Homo sapiens: one gene and its partners. The protein of the gene in region 4 purifies or fractionates together with the protein of the main gene of each other region. This does not show direct contact. Each region holds a gene or a part of one and is shown on either strand. Other genes may lie near its edges.

What was found.
Region 1: the proteins of CGRRF1 (region 4) and USP33 purify together in Homo sapiens (affinity purification with mass spectrometry; 3 studies listed by BioGRID and IntAct, with this or other methods). This does not show direct contact.
Region 2: the proteins of CGRRF1 (region 4) and SREBF2 purify together in Homo sapiens (affinity purification with mass spectrometry; 3 studies listed by BioGRID and IntAct, with this or other methods). This does not show direct contact.
Region 3: the proteins of CGRRF1 (region 4) and COLEC12 purify together in Homo sapiens (affinity purification with mass spectrometry; 3 studies listed by BioGRID and IntAct, with this or other methods). This does not show direct contact.

Annotation. Positions count from the first base shown.
Region 1 is NC_000001.11:77,749,825-77,756,852, forward strand, and holds part of USP33 (ubiquitin carboxyl-terminal hydrolase 33), read right to left. Parts: intron 1-7,028. UniProt on the Homo sapiens protein: Deubiquitinating enzyme involved in various processes such as centrosome duplication, cellular migration and beta-2 adrenergic receptor/ADRB2 recycling.
Region 2 is NC_000022.11:41,871,092-41,878,119, forward strand, and holds part of SREBF2 (sterol regulatory element-binding protein 2), read left to right. Parts: intron 1-2,706; coding exon 2,707-2,928; intron 2,929-4,245; coding exon 4,246-4,360; intron 4,361-4,451; coding exon 4,452-4,633; intron 4,634-6,137; coding exon 6,138-6,330; intron 6,331-6,850; coding exon 6,851-7,028.
Region 3 is NC_000018.10:343,697-350,724, forward strand, and holds part of COLEC12 (collectin-12), read right to left. Parts: intron 4,468-7,028; coding exon 4,369-4,467; intron 3,646-4,368; coding exon 2,599-3,645; intron 1-2,598. UniProt on the Homo sapiens protein: Scavenger receptor that displays several functions associated with host defense. Promotes binding and phagocytosis of Gram-positive, Gram-negative bacteria and yeast.
Region 4 is NC_000014.9:54,512,880-54,519,907, forward strand, and holds part of CGRRF1 (cell growth regulator with RING finger domain protein 1), read left to right. Parts: intron 1-7,028. UniProt on the Homo sapiens protein: Able to inhibit growth in several cell lines.

The DNA of each region.
Region 1 (7,028 bases), on a different chromosome or scaffold from region 4:
ACTATTTTGCCTCAGAGGAAAGAAATGGGATCAGAGGATTGAAAAGAAACTTCCAAGATAAATATTTTTTTCTAAAATCTCAAGCAAAAAATAAGATTAAAATAAATTCTCTCTGCTGATAGCTGAGATGAAAAAAAGAATAAAACATAAATACATTCTCTCTGCTCTGCTATTAATTTTGCATTATCTAAACAATTTAATAAGAATTGGCTGGGCAGGGCCAGGTGCGATGACTGTAATTCCAGAATTTTGGGAGGCCGAAGTAGGTGGATCACCTGAGTTCAGGAGTCTGAGACCAGCCTGGCCAACATGGCAAAACCCCTTCTTTACTAAAAATACAAAAATTAGCCGTGCATAGTGGTGGGTGCCTGTAATCCCAGCTACTCGGGAGGCTGAAGCAGGAGAATCACTTGAACCCAGGAGGCAGAGGTTGCAGTGAGCCGTGATCACGCCACTGCACACCAGCCTGGGCAACAGAGCAAGGCTCCATCTCCAAAAAAAGAAAGAAAGAAAGAATTGGCTGGGCAGCCACGCATGACAGCTCAGGTCTGTAATCCCAGCACTTTGGGAGGCCAAGGCGGGAAGATCATTTGAGCTGACGAGTTCAAGACCAGCCTGGGCAACATGGTGAAACCCCATCTCTCTACAGAAAATAGAAAAATCAGCCCAGCGTGGTGGTGCACACCTGTAGTTCCACTGAGGCAGGAGAATCCCTTGAGCCCAGGAGGCAAAGGTTGCAGTGAGCCAAGATTGCACCACTGCACTCCAGCCTGTGCAACACAGCAAGACCCTGACTTAAAAAAGAAAGAAAGAAAGAAAGAAAGAAAGAAAGAAAGAAAGAAAGAAAGAAAGAAAGAAAGAAAAAGGAAAAGAATTAGTGCATGTAAACAAAGGCTAACAATTTGTCCCAAGGATATTTAGTATCCCGTATAATACAATGCTATCAAAATAGAAAACCCTTAGTATTTTCTTTGCCTAGTTTTACTCAGTTTATTTACTAAGGTAATAAAATCATTCTTTTATTCCTTTATTTGACAAATGTTTATTGAGGGTAGGGCATTCAGATATAGTAGGGTAAGACAATGGGAGTTCTTAGCTACTTCAATTTCTTCTCAAATTGTACACCAAAAGAAAGAAGGCATGTATGCTTCCATTCTTGTCTGATAATTTAATCACAGGAGATGAGTATTAGACATTAGAAAAAAACAGAAAATGGTTGTATATGGAAATGCTATTGTCCAATCCACAGAAGTAGATTTTGCAAAACTAAGACTCCTGTAGAAGCTTGTGACTTACAAGTTGGAAATCACAAAGAGTGCACAAGATTTTATCTGTTTGTCCTTATCTTTGTAATCTTGTATCTGGCAGCTTTTTCCTCTATCTGCCACACTAACTGGACTACTGGAAGTTTTCTCACCAATAATGATGGCAGCAACACCAACTGAAAATTTTTCCAGATGAAAACGACTGCACTCACGCTCTATGATGTACAGCTCCGGTGGCTAAATTGCTCATCTGCATTAAAGTAAATGCAAAACTGCTTCTGGGCTGGGCATGGTGGCTCGCACCTGTAATCCCAGCACTTTAGGAGACTGAGGCGGGAGGACTGCTTGAACCCAGGAGTTCAAGACCAGCCTGGGCAACACGGCAATACCCTGTCTCTACCCCAAAAAAATACAAAAATTACCCAGGCCTGGTGGCATGCCCCTGCAGTCCCAGCTATTCAGGAGGCTGAGGTGGGAGGATCACCTGAGCCCAGGAGGCAGAAGTTGCATGCAGTGAGCTGTGATTGCACCACTGCACTCCCGCCTGAGTGACAGAGCTAGGCCTTGTCTCAAAAACAAAACAAAACTGCTTCTGAAGATATTACCTTTTTTTTTTTGAGACGGAGTCTTGCTCTGTCGCCCAGGCTTGAGTGCAGTGGCGCGATCTCAGCTCACTGCAAGCTCCACCTCCCGGGTTCACGCCATTCTCCTGCCTCAGCCTCCTGAGTAGCTGGGACTACAGGCACCCGCCATCACACCCAGCTAATTTTTTGTATTTCCAGTAGAGATGGGGTTTCACTGTGTTAGCCAGGATGGTCTCGATCTCTTGACCTCGTGATCCGCCCACCTCGGCCTCCCAAAGTGCTGGGATTACAGGCTTGAGCCACCGCGCCGCGCCCGAAGATATTACTTTTAAGGGGAGAATATTTTCGTAGTACAATCTCCAAATTCCAGGTTGAAATTCTGACCCCTTATCCTAATAGAAGATAATCAATCAGCTATTCAAATTTTAATATTAGGAAAAGTATAGGGAACCATGTTATTAGTACAATTTTTTTTTTTTTTGAGACAGAATTTCACTCTGTCGCCCAGGCTGGAGTGCAGTGGCGCAATCTCGGCTCACTTGCAACTTCTCCCTCCCAGGTTCAAGCAATTCTCATGCCTCAGTCACTTGAGTAGCTGGGATTACAAGCATGTGTCACCACATCCAGCTAAATTTTTGTATTTTTAGTAGAGACGGAGTTTCACCGTGTTACCCAGACTGGTCTCAAACTTCTGGCCTCAAGTGATCCACCCACCTCGGCCTCCCAAAGTGCTGGGATTACAGGAGTGAGCCACTGCGCCTGGCCTTAATATAATAATTACACATCAGGACATAGTTGGTAACCTAAGGAGCTTTTAATATTGAGAAACTGCCTGAATTCCATTGCCTAGTCTATTCCAAAAAGTAAAGCTCTTCATAAAAAGTCAGATTCACATTACAGAGAAAAAAAATTATGTCAGAAGGATTGGTAGCTATTTAATAGTTACATATAAGATTAATATGAATGCAGGAGGTCTTCACTAGCAGGTGTCAGAACTGCTCAATATTTTTAACAATAACCTGGATAAAGCTACAGAAGGCAGGCTAGTAAAATATAAACTTAAAATTATAAAAATAAGTTTTTAAAGAAAAATTAAACTATTTTTTAAAATAAGCTAAAATTGGCTGGGCGTGGTGGCTCACACCTGTAATCCCAGCACTTTGCGAGGCCGAGGCCGGTGGATCACCTGAGGTCAGGAGTTCATTACCAGCCTAGCCAACATGGTGAAACCCTGTCTCTACTAAAAACACAAAAAATTAGCAGGGCGTGGTGGTGTGCGTCTGTAGTCCTAGCTAGCTGGGAGGCTGAGGCATGGGAATTGCTGGAACCCGCGAAGAGGAGGTCGAAGTGAGCCAAGATCATGCCACTGCACTCCAGTCTGGGTGACAAGAGCAAAACTCCATCTCAAAAAATAAAAAATAAAAAAAATTAGCTAAAATTAACAGGACGAAATTTAATAATGATGGATGTGATATTCGACATTGGGATTCAAAGAATCAACCATATAAACTGAGACCAAAAAAGGGGGTCAGGTATTTGGATTCTAGACCCTTGAAGAAGTAGCAATTCCTACTCAATTAATCAACAGAACACTAGGTTTCAAGGTTTCAGAATAAAAAGAGTAACCAGTCTTGCTGGGTATGGTGGCTCACACCTGTAATCCCAGCACTCTGGGAGGCAGGGGCATGAGGATCGCTTGAGGCCAAGAGTTCAAGACCAGCCTAGGCAACAGAGTGATACCCACCCCCCATCTTTACAAAAAAAAAATAATAATTTTTTAATTGAATAGAGTGGTGAAAAGGGGAAAAAATAATAGCCAATCTTAATGTTCGCATAAAATAAGTAGATTATATCTGGAATACAGTATTTTATTTAAGAAGAATACTAAAAGCTACAGAATAAGAGTGCCTCTCATAGAAAACCTTAAAAGAAATAATTTGAAAACTGTATCTTATAAGATAGCACTGTACTAAGAGTAAAGTTTCTGGAGCAAGGCTCCACTATCTCCTAGATTTGGGACCAGTGGTAAGTTTCTTCTCTTTGCCTTAGCTCCCTCATCTAAAACACTGATCTAATTACAAATATCTACTTTCTAGAGTTTTGGAGAAGATTAATATATAATATTTTAAACTAATTATATAATTACACATAATACGTTAATATATAATTACATATTATATATTAGTATATATAAAATACTTAGAAGAGGGTGATATAGTAAGTACTCAGTAAATGTCAACCATTACGAACTGAAAGCATGGATGTTTAAACAGCAGAAGGCAAAAGATGCCAGGACTTGATACACATGTTCCAATTGAACATGATGACCAAAGGGATCCTTTCTTTTCTGTGCAACTTGAGAAAGTCAGAACAGCATATTCAATCAACGGTGAAGACTTCGGTTCAAATACAGATGAACTTTCATGGAAGGAGCATGTTCCCCATAATTGTTACACAGAGGTTGGGTAACTGTCAGAGGTGCTTCAAAGGACAGCAAGCACTTTGCACTAAAAACTCAGAATTGAATTAAGATTCTATGATTATAAAAAAATTGATTTGTCTTTCAACAGTTTCAATCTAGACTATGGTTCCACGAGTACTAGTCCAGCAGTACCATATGAAATATTACACTTTAGCAAAAATACAATGAAGGAATAAGCTTATGGCTTATCTTTCCATATTTATCATGGAAGAAAATTGCTACCCAATAAAAGCAAGCCAAAAAAACTGATGAATGGAAGGAAGTTATCAATGAAGAGTGCAACAACAAGCAGAAAAGTTTATTTTATTCTCAATCCATAGTAAGTGCTCAGGGAGACTTTTCACAAAAGAAATCAGCTGACAAGCATTTTAAATAACTGTTTCTTTCCCTTTAAACAAATATTCTGAGAATAAAATCATTCAAACCTCTGTGAGGATTTGAAGATCCCACAAAGTCCTATAATACTTACCTAATCATTCTTAATTTTCATTCAAAACCACAACACAGAAAAAGAAATGTAGTGCTAATCTTTTTATTTCTCTTTTACTAGAAAATCTGTCTCATTGATCCTTAAGAGTCTAATTAATGAGAGCCTTAAGGCTATTAAAAGAAATACGCAGTCTTCTAACTGAGTTCTCTGGCTACAACCTATGTGTTCTACAATCTATTCTTAACATTACCACTATTAATAATACCAAAGTATAGCTCCAATCTGGCAATCTTCATTCCAAATAACATCCTCTAAATGAGATTTGTAAATATTAATTAGCATTTCCTATAAAGATTTTTAAAAATCTGTCCAATAATGAATGGCAAAATATGGTCAATTCTAGCCTTATCTCGTTGAAATAATTTTGAGAAATATTGGAAGAGAGAGGAAATAGAAATGAATTAATGAATATGACAGAGTTCTAACAGAGTCTCAAATAAGCTGATGATAATTTTCACTCTAAGTCTCACTTTTGAGCAAGATGAAGAGTTAATATACTGGCATTACGGAACAGTCATTAAAAATATTCATGTAAACCACATAGAAACATGGAAAAACCTAAATCTTCAGTTCAGCTTGTGAGCAAAAAGAAAAAAGAAAGAAAGAATATGAGAAAACAAATGCTATCACCATATTCAAATGAGAACCACCATAAGAAAAATTATCAATTCTTTTATTGTTTACCAGACTATAATATTGATTTTAAAACTAATCAAAACTGATTCATCTAAACACAGTAATGCTTCCATAAAAAATATAAGAAATTCCAGCCAGACATGGCAGCTCATGCCTGTAATCCCAGCACTTTGGGAATCCAAGGTGGGAGGGTCACTTGAGGTCAGGAGTTTGAGACCAGCCTGGCCAACATGGTGAAACCCCCATTTCTACCAAAAAATACAAAAATTAGCTGGGTATGGTGGCGTGCGCCTGTAATCTCAGCTACTCCAGAGGCTGAGTGGTGAGAACTGCTTGAACGCAGGAGGTGGAGGTTGCAGTGAGCCAAGATCGCACCACTGCACGCCAGGCTGGGCAAGAGTGAGACCCTTTCACAAAAAAGTAAAATATATAAGAAATTCCTCTTCTAGGATTTTATAAAAGTTAAAACCTGTGGGAAATGGTCTTATTTTAGGTCACATTCAGCCCTATAGTTTCACCACATTACTGTATTTCAGGACTGTGATAAGCCCTGGGGGATAGAAATTAATTTAACAAATGCTTATAATCCAGCATGGGCCAGACATTATAAGTTTGTGGGGATGGCAGCATTGTTCAAGTCTCCACCCTGCTTTCCTTTTGAATGACTGGTCATCAACACTCTTATCATCACTCTCCTGAATACTATGCAATTTTTTCACTTTCCTTAAAAAACTAATTTGAAAGTCAGTGTCCTTCTGTCAACCCTTCTTTTTCACAAGTTAACTAACTTTTAAACCTCAGTACCATCTTAGATCCCTCCTTACTTTTTTCATTTACTTTTTTTGAAATGGGAGGCTCTCTATATTGCCCAGGTTGGACTTGAACTTCTGGGCTCAAGCAAATCTCCTGTTTCAGCCTCCCAAGTGACTGAGACTACAGGCTCAAGCCACAGCACCTGGCTCCCCTCCTCACTTTCTATCAGTTTCTAAATTCGGCATTTTTTTTTTTAACCACATTTCATCTCACATTTCTTCTAGGTCTCTATCTAAATTGAGGCTTTTATTTCACATCTGGATTATTCAATGAGAATGCCTGTTAAGACACAGAGTTGATACCTGGACCATCTCCTTTCAGCTCACTTCAATGTTTACTTGTAGCTGGTATGCACAGTTAACACACTGACAACTTCCCATCTCAACTACTTCTCTCCTCAGCTCTCCAGCACCTCAGGAGCTTGCCAAGCCCTACCTAACCAGTGTACCTGGGAAGTTCTGGGAGCCTTTTAGATAAAGGCAATCTTTATCAGTGAGGATTGACTGTAGATGGAAAACCACCCAGCTCCCCTTCATTTGGGGCAGTTATACAAAACTCTGAGGCAGTTATACAAAAATCTCCAAAGGCTTAAGCAGCCTCCAGTTGGCCTTCCACTATTAACCTTTTTTCCTCCTTCTCTGATTCTACCTGCTTCCTCACTTGTGCTTTATAGCATCTCACCTGCACCCATGTCATCTCAGGTCCAAGTTCAAGATGCACTTCAGAGAAACCATAAGGGCTACAAAAATAATGGTCAC
Region 2 (7,028 bases), on a different chromosome or scaffold from region 4:
AGTCTTCAGAGATGTTAAATCTCTATATGCTGAGTAGGTATGGGAGGGTCTATAGCACAAATCAGTCAAATTGTAAATGTCACCCCTCTTAGTTGTTTTTCGCTCGAAAAAGTATTAGCAATGTGTGTTCGATGTGGGAGTACTGGAGTCTACAAGGAGGTAGAAAAGAATAGCAGAAGGACCCTCTATTCTTGGCTAATAGCTCCACACAAGACCATTCACCTCTTAGATCCTGCTGATGACTTCTGAAGGACCCTAGGGCCACCAGGCAGGGAAGGGCTCCAAGGTGAAGAACATGGAAGGTACCCCATCCTTCAGTTGTAGGTTCTTAGCCACTTTCAGCATCCTATAGCATGAGAATCTGATAGAGTAAATGGTGATTAAAATTTAGAAGCACTAGCTTTATTCATAAAATCCAAGAACTGGAAGCAACTCAAATGTCCATCCACAGGAAAATAAGCACATTGTGATATATTCATACAATGAAATTATGCCTAGCAATTAAAAAACAGAACTGCTGACAGGCACGGTGGCTCACGCCTGTAATCTCAGCACTTTGGGAGGCCAAGAGGGGTGGATCACCTGAGGTCAGGAGTTTGAGACCAGCCTGGCCAACACGGTGAAACCCCATTTCTACTAAAAATACAAAAATTAGCTGGGTATGGTGGTGCATGGTGCATGCCTGTAATCCCAGCTACTCAGGAGGCTGAGGCAGGAGAATTGCTTGAACCTGAGAGGTGGAAGCTGCAGTGAGCCGAGATCGCACCACTGCACTCCAGCCTGGATGACAGAACGAGACTGACTCTCAAAAAAAAAAAAAAAAGCTACTGATGCATGAAACAACATGGGGCTGTCCCTCAGAAATAGTGTGTCAAGCCACCGGGCGCAGTGGCTCACACCTGTAATCCCAGCACTTTGGGAGGCCGAGGTGGGTAGATCATGAGGTCAGGAGATCGAGACCATCCTGGCTACCATGGTGAAACCCCGTCTCTGCTAAAAATACAAAAAATTAGCCGGGCATGGTGGCGGGCACCTGTAGTCCTAGCTACTCGGGAGGCCGAGGTAGGAGAATGTCGTGAACCTGGGAGGTGGAGCTTGCAGTGAGCCAAGATTGCGCCACTGCACTCCAGCCCGGGCGACAGAGCAAATCTCCGTCTCAAAAAAAAAAAAAAAGAAATAGTGTGTCAAGCCAAAGGAGTTCATGCTAATGAGTCCATTTATATGAAGTTTAAAAAGAGGCAAAATGAAGCTATGGTGCTGGAATTCAGAGCGGTGGTGACAAGGAGGGGAGGGGCATGCGGGGACTTTCTGAGCTGGTAGAAATGGGCTATATCTTGGTCTGGGTGGTTATATACATTGTGTACATATGTAAAATTCATCAAGCTATAAACTTAAGATTTGTGGTTTTTATTGTGCATGACGTACTTATTGGCAACTAATGAAATTGGGCACCTTTTTATTTATTTATTGGCTGATTAGATATTGAGGCCATTATTTAAGAAATTAAACTAAAATTGGTCCAGGCCCAGTGGCTCACGCCTGTATTCCCAGCATTTTGGGAGGCTGAGGTGGGCAGATCACCTGAGGTCAGTAGTTTGAGATCAGCCTGGCCAACATGATGAAATCCCATCTCTACTAAAAATACAAAAATGAGCCAGGTGTGGTGGTGGGTGCCTGTATTCCCAGCTACTCAGGAGGCTGAGGCAGGAGAATCACTTGAACCAGGGGGGTGCAGGTTGTAGTAAGCTGTGATCACGCCACTGCACTCCAGCTTTTGGGCAACAGAGTGAGACTTTGTCTCAAAAAAAAAAACAAAAACAAAAAAACAGGACGTGGTGGCTCACGCCTGTAATCCCAGCACTTTGGGAGGCCAAGGCGGGTGGATCACCTGAGGTCAGCAGTTTGAGACCAGCCTGACCAACATGGAGAAACCCCGTCTCTACTAAAAATACAAAATTAGCCAGGCATGGTGGCGCATGCCTGTAATCCAAGCTACTCGGGAGGCTGAGGCAGCAGAATCACTTGAAGCTGGGAGGCAGAGTTTGTGGTGAGCCGAGATCACACCATTGCATTCCAGCCTGGGCAACAAGAGCGAAACTCCGTCTCAAAAAAAATAAAATAAAATAAAATAAAGTTAGAAAAAATAAGAGGAGAAAACAGAGATGAAGAATAAAAAGGGGAGACCTCCATGGTTGGCCTATTTACTTAATCAAATGGCTCTTATTGAGAGTGTCACTTCTGCCCTTGAGCTTTTTGATGGCAAAATTGTATAAAGAAATGCAGTAATTTGCTTAATTGTCATTTGAGAGGAAAAAATGTGTCATACACTAGGAGAAAGTTTTCTCTGGTGCCAACTCGTGGTTCACCGTGTACAACTTTAGAAGTGGTTAACAGTTTGACAGCAAAGCAGAAATCATATGACTTGTTTCTGGCATACGTAGATCAAAACTTAAAACATATTTAGCCATGTTAATCCTCTTGTGGTGTAGTTTATCAGCAGTGATTCTTGAAGGGAGGTAGTAACCAAGGTTCCGTGGCTCCTGAGACTTCTTGGGGCCTGATTTGATTAACCCAGGAAGAGTCTCAGACCTCATGAAGTACTGCCAGGTCTGGCAGCACTTGGCCAAAGCGGGCAGGTCTGTGTTGAGGTTGCTTTATGCAGACTAACAAAGGGATCATTCTGCTGTGTACCTGTCCCTATTCTAGACCCTGGTGGGCAGCAGTGGGACCATTCTGACCACAATGCCTGTAATGATGGGGCAAGAGAAAGTGCCCATTAAGCAGGTACCTGGGGGAGTCAAGCAGCTTGAGCCCCCCAAAGAAGGAGAAAGGCGGACAACCCATAATATCATTGAGAAACGATATCGCTCCTCCATCAATGACAAAATCATCGAATTGAAAGACCTGGTCATGGGGACAGACGCCAAGGTGGGTGCCAAGCAAAATTGTGTTTTATGTTCCACCATCTCCCCTCTACCTGTTTTTGCCTCAGGAGCCTAGAGAAGTCCCAGGCTCAAGGTAAGTGAATACAAGACCGAGTTAGAGGTGCTTTTTTATTAAAGCATCTTGGTGTCATGTCAAGATTATAAAATATTAAAAAACATAAGGGACTGGTGAGGGTTGATAAGGCAGTGACCCGCTGAGACCTTTGACTCCTTTGGCTATGCTCTGCAGTGATGGGGACTCCACTGTCAGAGGCAGAGAAAGATGCCTGCCACTCAGTAGTTCCAGATACAGGACTGTGTGTACCTTGGAGTCAGCTGATGGCATAGTTTTAGCTGTGTTTAGGGGTTACCTTTTAAGGAAAAGAAAGAAAAAAGAGGTTGAGTCTTTGACCAGCAACACATAGAGGAAACTGATGTTCCAAATGTTTCTGGTGTTTCAGTGTATGTGTCTTCTAGAAAGTAGGAGATTTTATTTTTAAAACCTATCTATGTTTAAACCCTATTTTGAAAGAAAATTTCATTTTCCTTGCCTACAAATCTGAAAGCTGTACATCCTAAGTAAAAATCTATGCCTTAAGATAACTGTCCAGGCTAGGCACTGTGGCTTACGCCTGTAATCCCAGCACTTTGGGAGGCTGAGGCGGGTGGATCACGAGGCCAGGAGTTCAAGACCAGCCTGGCCAACATGGTGAAACCCCGTCTCTACTAAAAATACAAAAAATTAGCCGGGCGTGCTGGCAGGTGCCTGTAATCCCAGCTACTTGGAAGGCTGAGGCAGGAGAATTGTTTGAACCTGGGAGGCAGAGGTTGCAGTGATCTGAGATCGCGCCATTGCACTCCATCCTGGGCAACAAGAGTGAAACTCTGTCTTGGAAAAAAGAAAAAAAAAAAGATAACTGTCCAACAATGCTGTGGTTGTTTTTTTCATTTGTTTTCGTTAAAGTTTGTTATGGTGCTAGGATTATTATAAGAAGTGGGAACAATAGCTAATATTTATTGAGTGTCAACTATTTGCCAGGCTCAGGGCTAAGCCCTTTACACTCATTATCTCATTTAGCCCTGCTGCAAGCCTGTGATTCACGCGCTTTCATTATCTCTGTGCTAATGAGGAGGAAAGTGAGGTTCTGAGGTATGGAATAACTTCTCCCGAGTGGCACAGCTAATCATTGGGAGGACCAGCATCTGAACTTGGTTTCTCCTCTCACAGAGCCATGCTGTCATCCCAAGTGCTAGGGCTCTGCTCTTTTCACACTGTAGCCTGCACTGGTCTCACTGTGTTTTCACTCATCTTCCTACCCAGATGCACAAGTCTGGCGTTCTGAGGAAGGCCATTGATTACATCAAATACTTGCAGCAGGTCAATCATAAACTGCGCCAGGAGAACATGGTGCTGAAGCTGGCAAATCAAAAGAACAGTAAGTGTGCTGAGAAAAGGCTTGTCAGCCCTGGCCCAGGTGGGGCTTTGTAAAAGCAGATCATTTTCACCAGGTGGGGTTTTCTTTGCAGAGCTTCTAAAGGGCATCGACCTAGGCAGTCTGGTGGACAATGAGGTGGACCTGAAGATCGAGGACTTTAATCAGAATGTCCTTCTGATGTCCCCCCCAGCCTCTGACTCAGGGTCCCAGGCTGGCTTCTCTCCCTACTCCATTGACTCTGAGCCAGGAAGCCCTCTATTGGATGATGCAAAGGTACAGACTTTTGAAATCTCCTGATCCCTGGAATCTTTCCCATTTCCCCTAAGAAGATAGCTGGGAGGTCACAGTTATGAGGCCAGGCCGCATGTTAAGAGGGCCTAGCCTGGAGAAAAACAGGAATTCTGTGAAATTAGCCAGGTCCTGGAGAATAAAGAAAGAAAAAACTGACTCCGGGGGGAAACAGTCCCTCAGGTTTAACTGGTCCTTGCCGATAGGCCCCGTCAGAGAGGAATGAGTGCCAGATCCAGAACGAGAATGCAGAGTAGCTGTTGTGGGGGCGTTGGGAGCTGCTGGAGGCACCTCATTGCTTCACTCTGCCTTTAATGGGCCTGGCAAGACCACTTTGGGAGGCTGATCAGTTGGTTTAGGATGAGGCTGCCTCTGGGTCCTCTTTTCAGAAATGATTACAATTTGCAGTCTAACAGATAACATTTTACCTATGGGCCTTTAATCGTCAAAGCCCCTGGCAATGGTAGTTTAATGGAATTACTTAAGAGACGCTCTGAGCCTAATGATCTTCCTGGGAACCTGTAGAGACCACTGGGTTTTGTACTGTATTTTGACTTCGGCAGTTTCTGACTCTGAAAGCACAAAGTTCCCTCCTAGTGTTTGTTTTTGACTAAGCTGTTTATTGTATCATATACTTAATTTTACTAAGGAAGCTCCATTTTTGAAATATTCTTATAAATGTGGTTCTGTTTGGCAACAACAGGCTGTTTGACATATAAATTGAATTAGCTGGGCTTCTGAGTCATCAGAAGAAAATCTTAAATGGTTTTAAAATATTGAAAAGAAATGACATGCTATATACACATTGGGGCGCAGGGGAGATCTGGCTTCAGCCCTCCTGCTGTAAAATGGAGAGTGGGGTGGGTGTAGACAATGATACAGTTTTAGAACAGGTAAAATCCTTTAGATAGATTCACACTAAATACGGTCTTTGATCAACTTCATTGAGGTGTAATTTAAATGCAATAAAATATACCTACTTTAAAAGTACAGTACCAAGAGTTTTAACATAATGTACAGTGCTATGTAACTGTCACTGTAATCAAGATATAGAACATTTCCATCACCCCAAAAAGCTCTTTTGTACACCTTTGCAGGTAGTTTCCCACACCCCTCTCCAGCCTCAGACAATGACTGATTCATTGGTTTCCTGTTACTTTAGATTCATTTTGCCTGTTCTGGAATTATACAGAAACAGAATCATACAGTGTGTTCTCTTTTGTGGTAGATTTCTATTTTAAAAGAAAATCTCTTCTACCTTTGTTCTTTGGAACATGTACTTTTCTCAGTTAGCAAGCAGGTGAATGTGCCAATGTTTGAGCAGCAGTTAGTGAATTATAGGCTTCTCAGTTCCCATCTGGCCTTAGTCCTGAGTTAATCGACTTGAATTTAAACCTCATAACCATTTCTCAATATATATATATGTATTTATAAAGTGCTGTAAAAACCTATGCAGTATTTATTCCAACCTCGAGGCCTTGTTTTGAAGGTCAAAGATGAGCCAGACTCTCCTCCTGTGGCGCTGGGCATGGTAGACCGCTCACGGATTCTTCTGTGTGTCCTCACCTTCCTGTGCCTCTCCTTTAACCCCCTGACTTCCCTGCTGCAGTGGGGAGGGGCCCACGACTCTGACCAGCACCCACACTCAGGCTCTGGCCGCAGTGTCCTGTCATTCGAGTCAGGTAGGTGGAGGCCCCTTGCCCCACCTGGGCATGGCTGGACCACTATGGCAGGAGAAGGACCCTGTGTACAAACTTCTTGGCTTGGCTACCAGGTCCCAAAGGGCTTTTATAGTGGGCCCCCACCTGCTTGCTTCTGATAGGGACTGGCATAAGTTCCATTTTAGAAGTAACAAGGCAAGCCCAAGTTCAGTCAGAATGAGCAAAACAAATCAGGGACCCACACTACTCTAAATACCCTGGGGTGGAGGGGTGGTACCTATTTGAAGGAGGATATCGTGTTTTTTATCTGAGGTTGCAAAACCAATGCCTCAACCCTTTCAAAACAAAGATTTTTATGGCACTCAGCTCCATAATGAGAAGGGCTACAGTCATTAGCCCTGTTTAGATTATAGAATTATTTGCCCTTTCTTCTGAAAATGAGGTAGAAGACTCTTTCCTGTGATAGTGCTGGGGTCTGTCAGGTGCCTGGCTGCTCCGCAAGGCCTTTCCTAGCAGACTCTGCTGAGACGCTCCTTCTTAGGTTCTGGGGGCTGGTTTGACTGGATGATGCCTACTCTTCTCTTATGGCTGGTAAATGGTGTGATTGTCCTGAGCGTCTTTGTGAAGCTGCTGGTTCATGGGGAGCCAGTGATCCGGCCACACTCGCGCTCCTCGGTCACCTTCTGGAGGCACCGGAAACAGGCAGATCTGGATCTCGC
Region 3 (7,028 bases), on a different chromosome or scaffold from region 4:
CATCAGGTTTGGCACCAGACGGCCTGGGCTCGGATTCCACTGAGCTACTTTTTACTTGTGTAAACCTCAGCAAGTTACTCAAACCTTCTAAGCCTTAATTTCCTCGTCTATAAACTGGCGATGACATTGTAAGTAGCTGCTTCATAGAGCTGCTGTCAGGATTCATTGGGACGTTGGTGAAAAGTGCTCAGTACATTCACTTTCAATACTAGCTGATAAAAGAATCCTAACAATAGAAACATTAACTTAAACACTCAGGGTCTCACCTTCAAATACTAGCTTTTCATGTCCTTACTTGGCTGATAAGCCACGCTGTCTATAAACTAAATAACTGAAGACAAGGTAACAATTAAATTAATGAAATAATAAAACTATAAAATTAATAACTAGAAAATATCCAGAATACCATGATAAGATTGTCTAAGAATTTTTTTTTAAATCATTTGAAGGGCTACCCCTTTTTCAGAGTAAGACTCACACCTACCATATCCCTGACCTGCAACTGTCCAGCCCCTCCAGAGCTGGGGCATCCTGATTGAGTAGGGGAGCCATTATATTTTCAGCTAATACCCATTTTATGAGGAACATTCTGTAAAACCAAAATTGATCTTCCCTTAGTGAACACCCACTAGTCTTGTTTCACCCAGTGGCATTCCTCAGACAGAGCAACTTTAAATAAGTGCAGATGGCTGTCTTGTTCTCCACTGAACAGGCTCTCCTAGGGGTGAAAGCTCCCAGGTCCTCAACCCTTCCTCACAGTACGTGGTTTCTAGCCCCTATCATTCTGATGTTGCTTTTCTGAGCATGCTGGTCTGGGAATGTCTCTTTTGAAAGGGGCTACTCAAAGTAAACATTATCTTCCAGAGGTGGTCTTGGCATACTGAACAGAGTCAGATGTTACTTCCCTTTTTCTTAACACAGTCCACAGTCAAGGAACACATTCCCTTCCCTGGAAGACATATTTCACTGCTTCCAGTCAACTAAAATCCCCATGCTTCATGCACACTTCCTTCCAGCCATGCCTTCCCATCAACATTTATCTGTTTTGTCTCATCCATTTATGAGCAGGATTTTACATGTATTCCTATCTACTTCATTTGATTGACATCTTGATACTATCCTGGCCTCTCTAGATCATTGTGGATTATGAGTCTATCAGCCACTGGCTGGCATATACAGTTTCAAGTCACACAAGCATTGCTTTAGCAGGTCATCCATGCTAGTCACTGACAAAGCTATTGAACAGAGTCCTGCCATCTGCTATCCGGATCTGCCTTCAGCCTCACAGGGGCTTATTAACTACCACTCTTTACCCTTGATTATTAGACCAGTGTGGGGGACATACCCCAAGGTGGCCCCTAGTGACTCAGGCCCTTGTGTAATCCCTTCCCCTTGAATGTTTGCTTACAGCCCATCTTCTGATGCCCTGAAATTCTCTTTATGTTAAACTCCCTAAGGGTGAGGACCGTTGGTTTCATTTGTATACCCCAGACTGCTGAGCACAGCATCTTCCACCAGTACTTTCAACTTAAAACCTGTGAAAATAGTTTGTGACTGGAAAATACTGTTAATATATGATGCTACAATTCTTCAACTGTGGACTTAGTCTGAGTCAAGGACTTTTAATTTATATGGATGATCTGGATAACAGTAAAATTCAGATTATACGTATGTATTCATTCATTTATTTGTTTATTTAGGAGATGGGATATTGCTATGTTGCCCAGGCTGGTCTCAAACTCCTGGTCTCAAGCGATCCTCCCACCTCAGCCTCCGAAAGTGTTAAGATTACAGGCATGAGCCAGCACACCTACCAAAACTCAGATTTTATAAGCAAGACACATCGTTTCCTTCCTCTGTGACCTTACTGTGACCTCTGTGTTACTGTGATGGCCAACCATTCATCTACTCATGACATGTAACTCCCTTAATGGTAGCTTTGTGACCCAAAAGACTTGATCTTGCTTTCAGAGGAGCTTGATTTATATTGCATTGAAATAGCTCAAGGACCAAGAAAATTCAAATTAACCAACCTTTCACTCAACAAATAATTAATGGAGTCCCTTTAAGTACTGTCCACAGATTCTTAGTTACACTTCTTTTCAAGATGTGGAACTTAATTCCACTTGCATTGAGTGTGGGCTGGACTTAGTGACTTATTTCTAAGAAACAGAATGAAGTGGATGTGATGGTGTGTGGCTTCTGAGGCTAGTATGTCATGGTATCTTCCTTCTTGTTCTCTCTCTTGAATTCCTTGTTCTGGCAGCAGCCAGCTGCCACATTGTGAGGACACTCAAGCAATTTCACACAGCAAGGAACTGAGGCCTCCTGCCAAGAGCTATGTGAACAGGCCACTTAAGTAGCAGACCCTCCAGCCACAGTCAAGCCTTCAGATGACTGCAGCTCTGGCTGAGATCTTGACACAACCTCATGAAAAACAGTGAGTCAGGACCATCTAGCTAAGCTGCTCTTGAATTCCTGGTCCACAAAAACTATGAGATGATGAATATTTATTGTTTTAAATTGCCAAGTTTTAGAGTAACTTGTTATGCAGCAATAAACAACTAATACAAATACAAATTCAGAATTTTGACTTACCTTGTAGTATTGTAAAATTCTTGATGAGCTGACCATGCTTGGAGTCTACTAGCTTCATTTCTTCCATAATCACTGATAAGTTGGCTACTTCAGTGTCTAACCTCGACCTCATCAAATCTTGTTGCATCCTGAGAGAAACAGAATCCAAACGGATGTTGGCCAGGGTATTATTCAAGGAGGTCAGATCATCTGTGTGTTTGGTAAGGGTATCTGTGCAAGTGGTCCTGACTTCATTTAGATTGCTGGTCAGCGTCCGCAGGTGGTGGGCTGTGTAACTGATATTGCTAATGATGTTCACAATATCCGTCTCAAAGAGCTGGAAGCGTTCCTCCAGTTGGTTGAACTTGATGGCTGTTCTATTCTCTGCATCTTTGTGTAAGTCCTGCAGGTCTTTCAGGTTCTGCTCGTTGGCTTGAGAGATAGTGGTGATGTTCTCCATCTGACCTGTGAATGAGTTGAGCTGGCTGTTCATATCCTCCAGGGTGTCGTTGTTGGCTTTGGCCAACGCAGAGTTGTTGGCAGCCAGCGTCTGCAAGCTCTGCACTTTCTCCTTCAGCCAATCCGTGTCCTTCTTGGCTTGAAGAAAAACCTGCTGCAGATTTTGAAAGTCGTTCTTGATTCGCTGGATAGCCTGGCTTGTGTCATCCACAGACCGCTGCAGATTCGTGATGAGGTTCCTCTGCTGCACCTGGGTCAGGTTCAGGTTGTTGAGGTTCATGATGACCACATTATGAGAATACATTTGGTTCTGCAGATTGCCCTGGAGCACGCTGGTATCTTGCTGCAGATTCGTGACATAGCCATTATACGCCTGGAGGGTTTTGTTTACAGTGGTGATGAGGAAAGAGTTATTCTCCAAAGTTTCTTTCAATTGACTCTGCCTGTCCACCAGAGCATCCCCGCTCGCCTGTAACTTCTCCAGCGTATCCTTGTTCTTGCTGGTTTTTTCTGTAATCTCACGAAGTTGCTGACGGAGATCTAGAATGTCTGATCTGAAGGTGGAGAGTTCTGAGTTGGTGCTGATAGCTTTCTTCCCAGTTTGGTCACCTGGAATAAGAAATATCTGTGACTTATATTGGTGGTATGGAGAAGTGTTCAGGCAAGGCCAAAGATCCCGAACACACTTAATCGGTATGCACTGTATTTTAGATGCAAAATTGGCAGTATAAGCGGACAGCTCTGCATTAGTAAAATGTACATATCTATTAAAACTGGGTCCTGGGGAATCGGAAAAGAAGCTCAGAACTAGGAATGACAAACTTGGCTGAACATTTTTCTCAAAGAGGGAGGGGGAATTTACTAGATTTTAGGGCAGTGGGCAGGCTGTCAAGAAGAAACTAACCTTTTAAATTTCCCAAATTTTTTTTTAATGAAAGCAAAAATCAAGGAATAGAATATGCTAGGATCTTTCACTTTATAACTTAATTTCTACAATTCTATGTAGTTTAAAGTATTTCAAAAATGCTCAGTAAATTCCTATTTATGTGACAGTTTTTAATAAAGGGTATTTGTGTTTTTTTTCAGTCAGGATTGATCTTCAGATATTATTTGGCACATAATAGTTTTCTTGGCAGGACTTAATTCCAAAACTGACCCTTAACTTTAAAATTTAAGCATTTGAATTAAATCATGAGGGGAGACTCAACATGCAACACAAAAATTGAATGTCCTTCCGGGTGAATGGGGAGTTTATAGCAACATCATTCTAAGAAGCTGTGGTCATTTATGTAGAGTCAGGGGATTTCATGGTTTAGTCTTGTCACAGATTACCTAATTTTTTCAGGTCACTTTCCACTGCTGTGAGCTTGTCATCATAGGTTTGGCGAGATGTTTCCATGCCACCTGTGACATTGTCCATTTTCTCTACAACTAAGATTTGGAAAATGATGCATTAGTATACATATCTGCTCATATTTTATTTTTCAGTTTCAAAACAAGAGATCATTTCATTATGGAACAAAGGAAACAGATTGAACGAAAACAGTGTAACTGAAATCAAATATAGGAAAGAAAAGCCATCTTTTTGGAAAAATAACTTACTTGTCACAAAACCCAGGGGTACAATTTACTTAGTTGAGAATTGTATGTTCTTAACTATTCTTATGATTCTGTAATGCCTTGGATGTTTCAGAAATCATTTGGAACTAATTTAAAAATTTTCATGCATTTTAGAAGTCCCTAATCTGCTATTTCCTATATTAATTTCCATAGATGAAGGCAAGGCACACTGTGATAATTTACAAAATGTTGTCACTCATCAGCTTCCCTAACATTCTTGGCAGGTGGGACTCATTTACCTAGAAGAGGATTCCATTGGCAAGGAAAACCCAGCTCAATTCTATACACAAAATCGGCATAGAAAGGTTGCAAAGTCAAGAGTGTCTGCCACTTTCTGTTATGAGTTCCACCACAAGGCCCTGAAAATCTGCTTTTTGTTAGTGACAACTGATTCTGTAGTTTGTCAGTTCTCAAGTAGATGCCTGAGTGGTGTTTCCAAACAATGATTTGCCAAGAAGTATTTTTTGGTAGTATTTTCTTGATTGCATATGATAGGGAAAGTAATGCCACTGATAGGGTTTGGCTGTGTCCCCACCCAAATCTCACCTTGAATTATACTCCCCTAATTCCCATGTGTTGTGGGAGGGACTTGGTGGGAGATAATTTGAATAATGGGGGTGGTTTCCCCTATACTGTTCTGGTGGTAGTGAATAAGTCTCACAAGATCTGATGGTCTTATCAGGGGTTTCCACTTTTGCATCTTTCTAATTTTCTCTTGCCGTCCCAAATGTTAACCCCCAAGACAATGGGGAAAATGTCTTCAGGGCATGTCAGAGCCTTCCTGGCAGCCCTTTCCATCACTGGCCTGGAGGCCCAGGAGAAAATGGTTTCGTGGGCCAGGCCCAGGGTCCCCATGCTGTGTGCAGCCTAGGGACTTGGTGCCCTGCTTCCCAGCCACTCCAGCCATGGCTGAAAGGGGCCAATGTGGAGCTGGGGCCGTGGCTTCAGAGGGTGCAAGTCTCAAGCCTTGGCAGCTTTCATGTGTTGTTGAGCCTGTGAGTGCACAGAAATCAATAATTGAGGTTTGGGAACCTCCGCCTGGATTTCAGAGGATGTATGGGAACTCTTGGATACCCAGGGAGAGGTTTGCTGCACGGGTGGGATGTGCATGAAGAACCTCTGCTAGGGCAGTGTGGAAGGGAAATGTGGTGTCGGAGCCCCCACACAGAGTCCCTACTGGGGCACTGCCTAGTGGAGCTGTGAGAAGAGGGCCACCGTCCTCCAGACCCCAGAAGGGTAGATCCACTGACAGTTTGCACCGTTCACCTGGAAAAGCCACAGATGCTCAACACCAGCCATGAAAGCAGCAGGGAGAGAGGCTGTACCCTGCAAAGCCACAGGGGTGGAGCTGCCCAAGACCATGGGAACCCACCTCTTGCGTCAGCATGACCGGGATGTGCGACCTGGAGTCAAAGGAGATAATTGTGGAGCTTTAAAATTTGACTGCCCTGCTGACTTTGAACTTGCATGGGGCCTGTAACCCCTCTGTTTTGGCCAATTTCTCCCATTTGGAAAGGCTATATTTACCCAATACCTGTAACCCTCATTGTATCTAGGAAGTAACTAGCTTGCTTTTGATTTTACAGGCTCATAGGCGGAAGGGACTTGCCTTGTCTCAGATGGGACTTTGGACTGCAGACTTTAGGGTTAATGCTGAAATGAGTTAAAACTTTGTGGGACTGTTGGGAAGGCATGATTTGTTTTGAAACGTGAGGACATGAGATTTGGCAGGGGCCAGGGGTGGAATGATACAGTTTGGCTGTATTCTCGCCCAAATCTCATCTTGAATTATATCTCCCAGAATTTACATGTGTTGTGGGAAGGACCCAGTGGGAGATAATTTGAATCATGGGGGCGGTTTCCCCCATACTGTTCTCATGGTAGTGAATAAGTCTCACGAGATCTGATGGGTTTCCACTTTTTCATCTTTCTCACTTTCTCTTGCTGCTGCCGTGTAAGAAGTGCCTTTTGCCTCCCACCATGATTCTGAGGCCTCCCCAGCCATGTGGAACTGTAATTCCAGTTAAACCTCTTGTTCTTCCCAGTCTCGGGTATGTCTTTATCAGCAGCATGGGAACGGACTAATACAGCCACACTAAATAAAAGCTTCAGTTCTTATTCATTTTCAGAAGGCAGTAATTCTCTACAGTTATGAATTCAAGTACACGTTTCTAAAATGTTAAATAAGAGGATGTTTCTCCAAAAGTGATTTATGTGAGATACAGCTTCTAGCAGCTTGGGATCAAGTCTGACTGTCCTTCTTAGTATCAATAGCTTAAAAAAAAAGACTTCAGACCGGGCATGGTGGCTCACGCCCGTAATTCCAACACTTTGGGAGGCTGGGGTGGGTGGATCATTTGAGCTCAGGAGTT
Region 4 (7,028 bases):
CTCTTTATTCTCTTTTCTCTGTTCCCTTGTCCTAGGAGTGATAGCTGCTTCCTGCTGTTACTACTTCTTATCACATAAGTAGGACTCAGTGTCCTCTTTTTGCCTTTTCAGTTCTTCAACATATGGTTAACATTTTTCATATGAAAATTTCTCTTGATGTTGATGCTGACAACTTTAAAAATCAAGTCCAATCTCTCTGTTAAAATAACGGATGCATTTTCAGACTCCTGCCTGGACCCTGACTGATAAAGAAATTGTCACTAAGAATGGGATCCTGGTGAGAAAACTTTCAAAGATAGAATTTGGGGGCATCGGTTTGGTAATTTCTTTAGCTCTTTGCCAATGGGAAATAATCTAGTAACCCACAACATGTAGTGGCATCACAATCAAATTGATACATTTGGTTGATTGTGATAAAATTATTTCTGAAGCTGTGTGCTGGAGGACCAAGTGGCTAAAGCGCTTGACTGTTAATGGCAGTAATGATGACTACAGGGACTGAGGGAGAAGTGAGAAGTGAGATAGGTGCTTCTTTGTTCACTGGAGCACTGACAGAAAGCAAATGACAAACTCAGGTCTTCAAAGCGTTAGATCGGTCAAGTCTTAGAGAATCAAAAAGTTTCCATGGTTCTAAAGCACTTCATTTTGTGTAGCCACGGAAAGACTTGCTAAAAATTGGACACAGTTTTATGTTATGTTATGTTATGTTATGTTATGTTATGTTATGTTATGTTATGTAATGTTATGTTATGTTATGTTATTTTTGAGACAGAGTCTTGCTCTGTTGTCCGAGCTGGAGTGCAGTGGCATGATTTTGGCTCACTGCCTATAATTCCAGCACTTTGGGAGGCTGAGGCAGGAAGACTGTTTGAGCCCAGAAGTTCAAGACCAACATGGGAAATATGGCAAAACTCGGTCTCTACAAAAAATAGAAAAATTAGCCAGGCATGGTGGCAGGTGCCTGAACACAGTTTTAACTGCGATAGTAATAGAATTACCTAGCCTTTGTCAGTGTCTCATTTAGAATATTGTTTGGAAAGAAGTAGAACCCTGAGACTTGGAATGGGGACATCTAGGTAGACATGGACAGAGCTGAGAATCTTGAAAAAAACTCCAGTCACTCTGAGCCTCCATTGTTGACAGAAGCTGCTTACTTTTGAAAATTAGCCTTCTCTTGCTTGAAGATCCTGTAATAACCTCACCTAGGGTAGTTTCTTTGCAAAGGGCTATCCACACTTAAGAGCTACCTCTATTATCTTGTCATGAGGCCCAGATCTCTGCATGTTGCCTAGTATAGGGACAAAATCTGATCTGACTAGAAATAGTCTGTCCTTGAAAAGAATTGCAAAATTTTGCTAATTTATATCTGTGGAATCCTGAGGAATATATGTGAGGATGGATTGTAAGCCGGAGAATAGAATGTAACACTAGATCAGATCATATTTATTCATCTGGGTATATTCTCAAGAAATTCTGCATCTAAAGCGTTAACTCATACTTGTTTGTTTGATGGAAACTTGGACTCATTGGTGGCCTGTATTTTATAACGTTGAGATTTCTGTTGTTGTTGTTTTTAAACATTTAGGTTCAGAGGTACATGTGAAGGTTTGTTACATAGGTAAACTCGTGTCATGGGTTTGTTGTACAGATTATTTCATCACCCAGGTATTAATCCCAGTACTCAATAGTTATCTTTTCTGCTCCTGTTCTTCCTCCTAACTTCCACCCTCAGGTGGATCCCAGTATCTGTTGTTCCCTTCTTTGGGCTCATGAGTTCTCATCATTTAGCTCCCACTTATAAGTGAGAACATGCTGTATTTGGTCTTCTCTTCCAGGAGATGGAACAGAAATGTTGAGTGCCTTCTAATTTCCTTGTAAGTACTGCTTTATCAGCATTCCCCCACATTTTGACACATATGTCTTCATTTTTATTCAGGTCATAATTTAAAATAATTTCCCTTTTGATTTTTTTCTTGACCTCTAAGTTATTTAGAAGTTTGTTATTGAGTTTCCAAATATTTGGAAATTTTAAAGATATCTCTGTTACTGATTTATAATTTGATTCCATTGTGGTTAGCATACTTTTTATGATTTGACATCTTGTAAATTTATTGAGACTTGTTTTATAATCCAAATATATTCTCTCTTTGGTAAATGTCCTAATGCACTTAAAAATAATATATATTCTGCTATTATTGGGTGAGTTTTTTGTTTTTTTTTTTTTTTTTGAGACAGAGTCTCGCTCTGTCACCAGGCTGGAGTGCAGTGGTATGATCTCGGCTCACTGCAACCTCCGCCTCCTGGATTCAAGCAATTCTCCTGCCTCAGCCTCCAGAGTAGCTGGGACTACAGGTGTGCACTACCATGCCCAACTAATTTTTTTTTTTAATTTTTAGTAGAGATGGGGTTTCATCATGTTGGCCAGGATGGTCTCGATCGCTTGACCTCATGATCTGCCCGCGATGACCTCCCGAAGTGCTGGGATTACAGGTGTGAGTCACCGCGCCCGGCCGGGTGAGATGTTTTATAAGTGTCAATTAAGTCAAATTGGTTGATAGTGTTATTCAAGTTTTTGATGTCCTTACTGATTTTCTATATATTGGAGCTATCAGTTATTGAAGTTGTGGGGAGTATTAGAATTTCTGACTATAATTGTGGATTTATCTATTTCTCTTGGCAGTTGTATCAGTTTTTGCTTTATATTTTGAAGTTCTATTAATAGGTACATAAACATTTAGGATTATTTTGTGTGCATGATGAATTGACCCTTATATCACTATGAAATGGACCTCTTTGATCCTGGTAATAGTCTTTGCTCTGAGATCTACTTTGTCTGGTATTAATGTAGCTACTTCAGCTTTCTTTTGATTAGTGTTAGCATATACATCTTTTTTTCATCCTTTTACTTGTAAACTCTTTTTGTCTTTTTATTTAAAGTGGGTTTCTTGTATGCACCATATAGCTAGGTCTTATGTTTTTATCCAATCTGATAATCTTTGCCTTTTAACTAGGGAGTTTAAAACATTTACATTTAATGTGATTATTGATATTGTTAGATTTAATTCCACCATCTTGCTATTCGTTTTTTGTTTGTTTTGTCTGTTCTTTGTTTCTTTTCCCCTCTTTTATTTTACTAGTCTGTTTTTTGTTTCTTTTTCCCCTTTGTTCAGCCATCATTTACATTAGTTAAATAATTTATGTGATTCCATTTTATCTCCTTTGTTGGTTTATTAGCAATAACTTTTTTTAGTGGTTGCTTGAAAGTTTATAATGTATCTCTAACTTATCACCATCTACCTTCAGGTAATATTTTAAAGAGATATAAGAAAAGCATTATAATTCCTCACGTAGTTACCATTTCACTGCTATTTATTTCTTTGTATCAATCCAGATTTTTATTTGGTATCATTTTTCTTCTTCCCAAGGCATACTTTAATTTTTCTTGTTGTGCAAGTCTGTTGGTGATGAATTCTTTTAGCTTTTGTTATGTTTGAAAAAGTCTTTATTTTGCTTTGGAAAAATATAGGTATAGAATTCTAGATTGACAAGATTTTTTTCCTGTTAGTTCTTTAAAGATATTCTGCCTTCCATTGCTTCTTATTAATATTAAAAAGCTACTGACATTCTTATCTTTGTTCCTCTATGTGTAGTATATCTTTTTTTCCTTTTCTTTGGCTACCGTAGCATATCTTCTTTCTTTTTCTTAGGATTTTCTCTATATTACTGGTTTTAAGCAATTTGATTATTATGTGCCTTAGGTAATTTTCCTTGTTTCTTGTGCTTGGAGCTCATTGAGATTCTTGGGTCTGTAGGTTTTTATAGTTTTCAACATGTTGGGGAAGGTTTTCGCCATTATGTGTTCAAATACTTTATCTGTCCTCTGCAAACTTCAGTGATATGTTAAGACTTCAGTTACATGGCTGACTAAAAGTTGGCTTACTGATGCTTTTTGTTGTTGTTGTTGTTCAGTCTTTTTCCTTTCTGTGTTTCAATTTCAGTACTTTCTGTTATGTTGTCTTCAAGATTACTAATCTTTTATTGTGCAATACCTAATCTGCTGTTAATCTCATCCACTATATTTTTTATCTAAAACATTATCTTTTTCATCTCTAAATATTGATTTGGGCCTTTTAAATATCTTCCATGCCTCTATATCATATGTGCAGTCATTACTTTTCTTCTGAAACATATGGAATATAGTCCTAGGAGCTATTTTTATATCCTTGTCTACTAATTCAAGTATCTGTATGATTTCTGGATCTATTTCTATAGAGTTTTGCTCCTCATTGTGGGTACTGTTTTCCTGCTCTTTGCATGCCTGTTAATGTTTTTTTATCAGATGCTATACTTTGTGAATTTTACCTTACTAGGTGCTGGATATTTTTGTATTCCTCTAAATATTCTTGAGCTTTATTCTGGGTCACTGTTAAGTTACTCAGAAATAGTTTAGTCTGTTAGAGGCTTGCTTTTCAGCTTTGTTAGGCAGGACCAGAGCAGTCTTACCCAACTCTTTTATAAAATCAGAGTCATCAAAAGTGAATTTTTATTTCATTTGTTAATTTTATTGGTTATCTTTCAGTGTTAGACTTGTGTGTTTTGAAACTTTAGTTTTCAACCTAAATTTTAGTGGAAGATTCGTTTTGTTTTGTTACTTTTCTCCCTTTGTTATCACCCTCACTGTTTATCCACTTTGCAATTATTATTATTATTATTATTTTTAGTTGAGTATTTTATTTTATTTTTTCCTTCAACTTTTAAGTTCTGGGGTACATGTGCAGGATGTGCAGGTTTGTTACATAGGTAAATGTGTGCCATGGTGGTTAGCTGCACAGATCAACCATTCACCTTGATATTAAGCCCAGCATCCATTAGCTATTCTTGATGCTCTCCCTCCCCCAGCTCCCACCCTGATGGGCCCCAGTCTGTGTTGTTTCCCCTCCATGTGTCCATGTGTTCTCACTGTCTGCTCCCACTTACAAGTGAGAATATGCAATGTTTGATTTTCTGTTCTTGCATTAGTTTGCTGAGGATAATGGCTTCCAGCTTGACGCATTTTCCTGCAAAGGACATGACCTTGTTCCTTTTTATGGCTGCATAGTATTCTGTGGTGCATATGTACCACATTTTCTTCATCCAGTCTATCACTAATGGGCATTTGGGTTGATTCCATGTCTTTGCTATTGTGACTAGTGCTGAAATTAATATATGCATGCATGTATCTTTATAATAGAATGATTTATATTCCTTTGGGTATATACTCAGTAATAGGATTGCTGGGTCAAATGGTATTTCTGCCTCTAGATTTTTGAGGAATTGCCATACTGTCTTCCACAATAGTTGAACTAATTTATATTCCCACCAACAGTGCAAAAGTGTTTCTTTTAGGCCAGGCGCAGTGGCTCATGCCTGTAATCCTAGCACTTTGGGAGGCCGAGGTGGGCAGATCACCTGAGGTCGGGAGCTTGAGACCAGCCTGACCAACATGGAGAAATCCCGTCTCTACTAAAAATACAAAAAAAAATTAGCCAGGCGTGGTGGTGCATGCCTGGAATCCCAGCTACTTGGGAGGCTGAGGCAGGAGAATCACTTGAACCCAGGAGGTGGAGGTTGCGGTGAGCTGAGATCATGCCATTGCAGTCCAGCCTGGGCAACAAGAGCGAAACTCCATCTCAAAAAAAAAAAAGAAAAAAAAAAGTGTTTCTTTTTCTCCACAACTTTGCCAAGATCTGTTGTTTCTGGATTTTTTTAATAATTGCCATTATGACTGGCGTGAAATGGTATCTCATTGTGGTTTTGATTTGCATTTCTCTAATGATCAGTGATGTTGAGCTGTTTTTCACATGTTTGTTGGCTGCATGAATGTCTTTTAAGAAGTGTCTGTTCATGTGGTTTGCCTACTTTTTAATGGGGTTGTTTTTTTCTTGTAAATTTGTTTAAGTTCCTTGTAGACTCTGGATATTAGACCTTTGTCAGATGGATAGATTGCAAAAACATTTTATATTCATTTATACCCAGATTCCTAGACCTCCAGACCAGGACTAGGTTTTTGTTGTTTTGTTTTGTTTTGTTTTGTTTTGTTTGGGACGGAGTTTCACTCTTGTTGCCCAGGCTGGAGTACAATGGCATGATCTCGGCTCTCTGCAACCTCTGCCTCCTGGGTTCAAGCAATTCTCCTGCCTCAGCCTCCCAAGTAGCTGGGATTACAGGCATGCACCACCATGCCCAGCTAATTTTTTTTGTATTTTTAGTAGAGACGGGGTTTCTCCATGTTGTTCAAGCTGGTCTTGAACTCCCGACCTCGGGTGATCTGCCCACCTTGGCCTCCCAAAATGTTGGGATCACAGGCGTGAGCTACTGTGCCTGGCCTTTTTTTTTTGAGACAGAATCTCTCTGTGTTGCCCAGGCTGGAGTGCAGTGGCACAATCTCTGCTTACTGCAGTCTTGACCTCCCAGGCTCAAGCGATCCTTCCACCTCAGCCTCTTAAGTAGCTGGGACCACAGGTGTACACCACCATGCCCAACTAATTTTCCATTTTTTTTTTTTTTTTTTTGTAGAGATGGGGTCTCGCTATTGTTGCCCAGACTGGTGTCGAACTCCTGGGCTCAAGCATTCCTCCCTCCTCAGCCTCCCAAAGTTCTGGGATTATGGGCAGGAGCCAGTGCACCCAGCCTAGGACCAAGTCTTATAACGACAGTTCTGCGTATTTTTGTATTGACCTAATCCAGCTCCTGGTTCCAAGTTATAAACCTGGCTCTGGCCCTTGTCTGGAGAAGACAGCCTATGCTGGTCTCCTTAGTACATGAAGGCTTGGTTGCCACTGTCTGCTGCCAGACTGAGAACCATGAAACCATGGCATAGCCTTACTCATTACTTTGTTTCTTTGCTTTTTTTGGATCCATAAAGGTATTTGTTCCCAGCATTTTATTATAAAAATTTTCAAACATACAGAATACTAGAAAGAATTACACAGTGAACACACATCTGCCCATCACTTAGATTCTACAATCAGCATTTTACTGTAATTTCT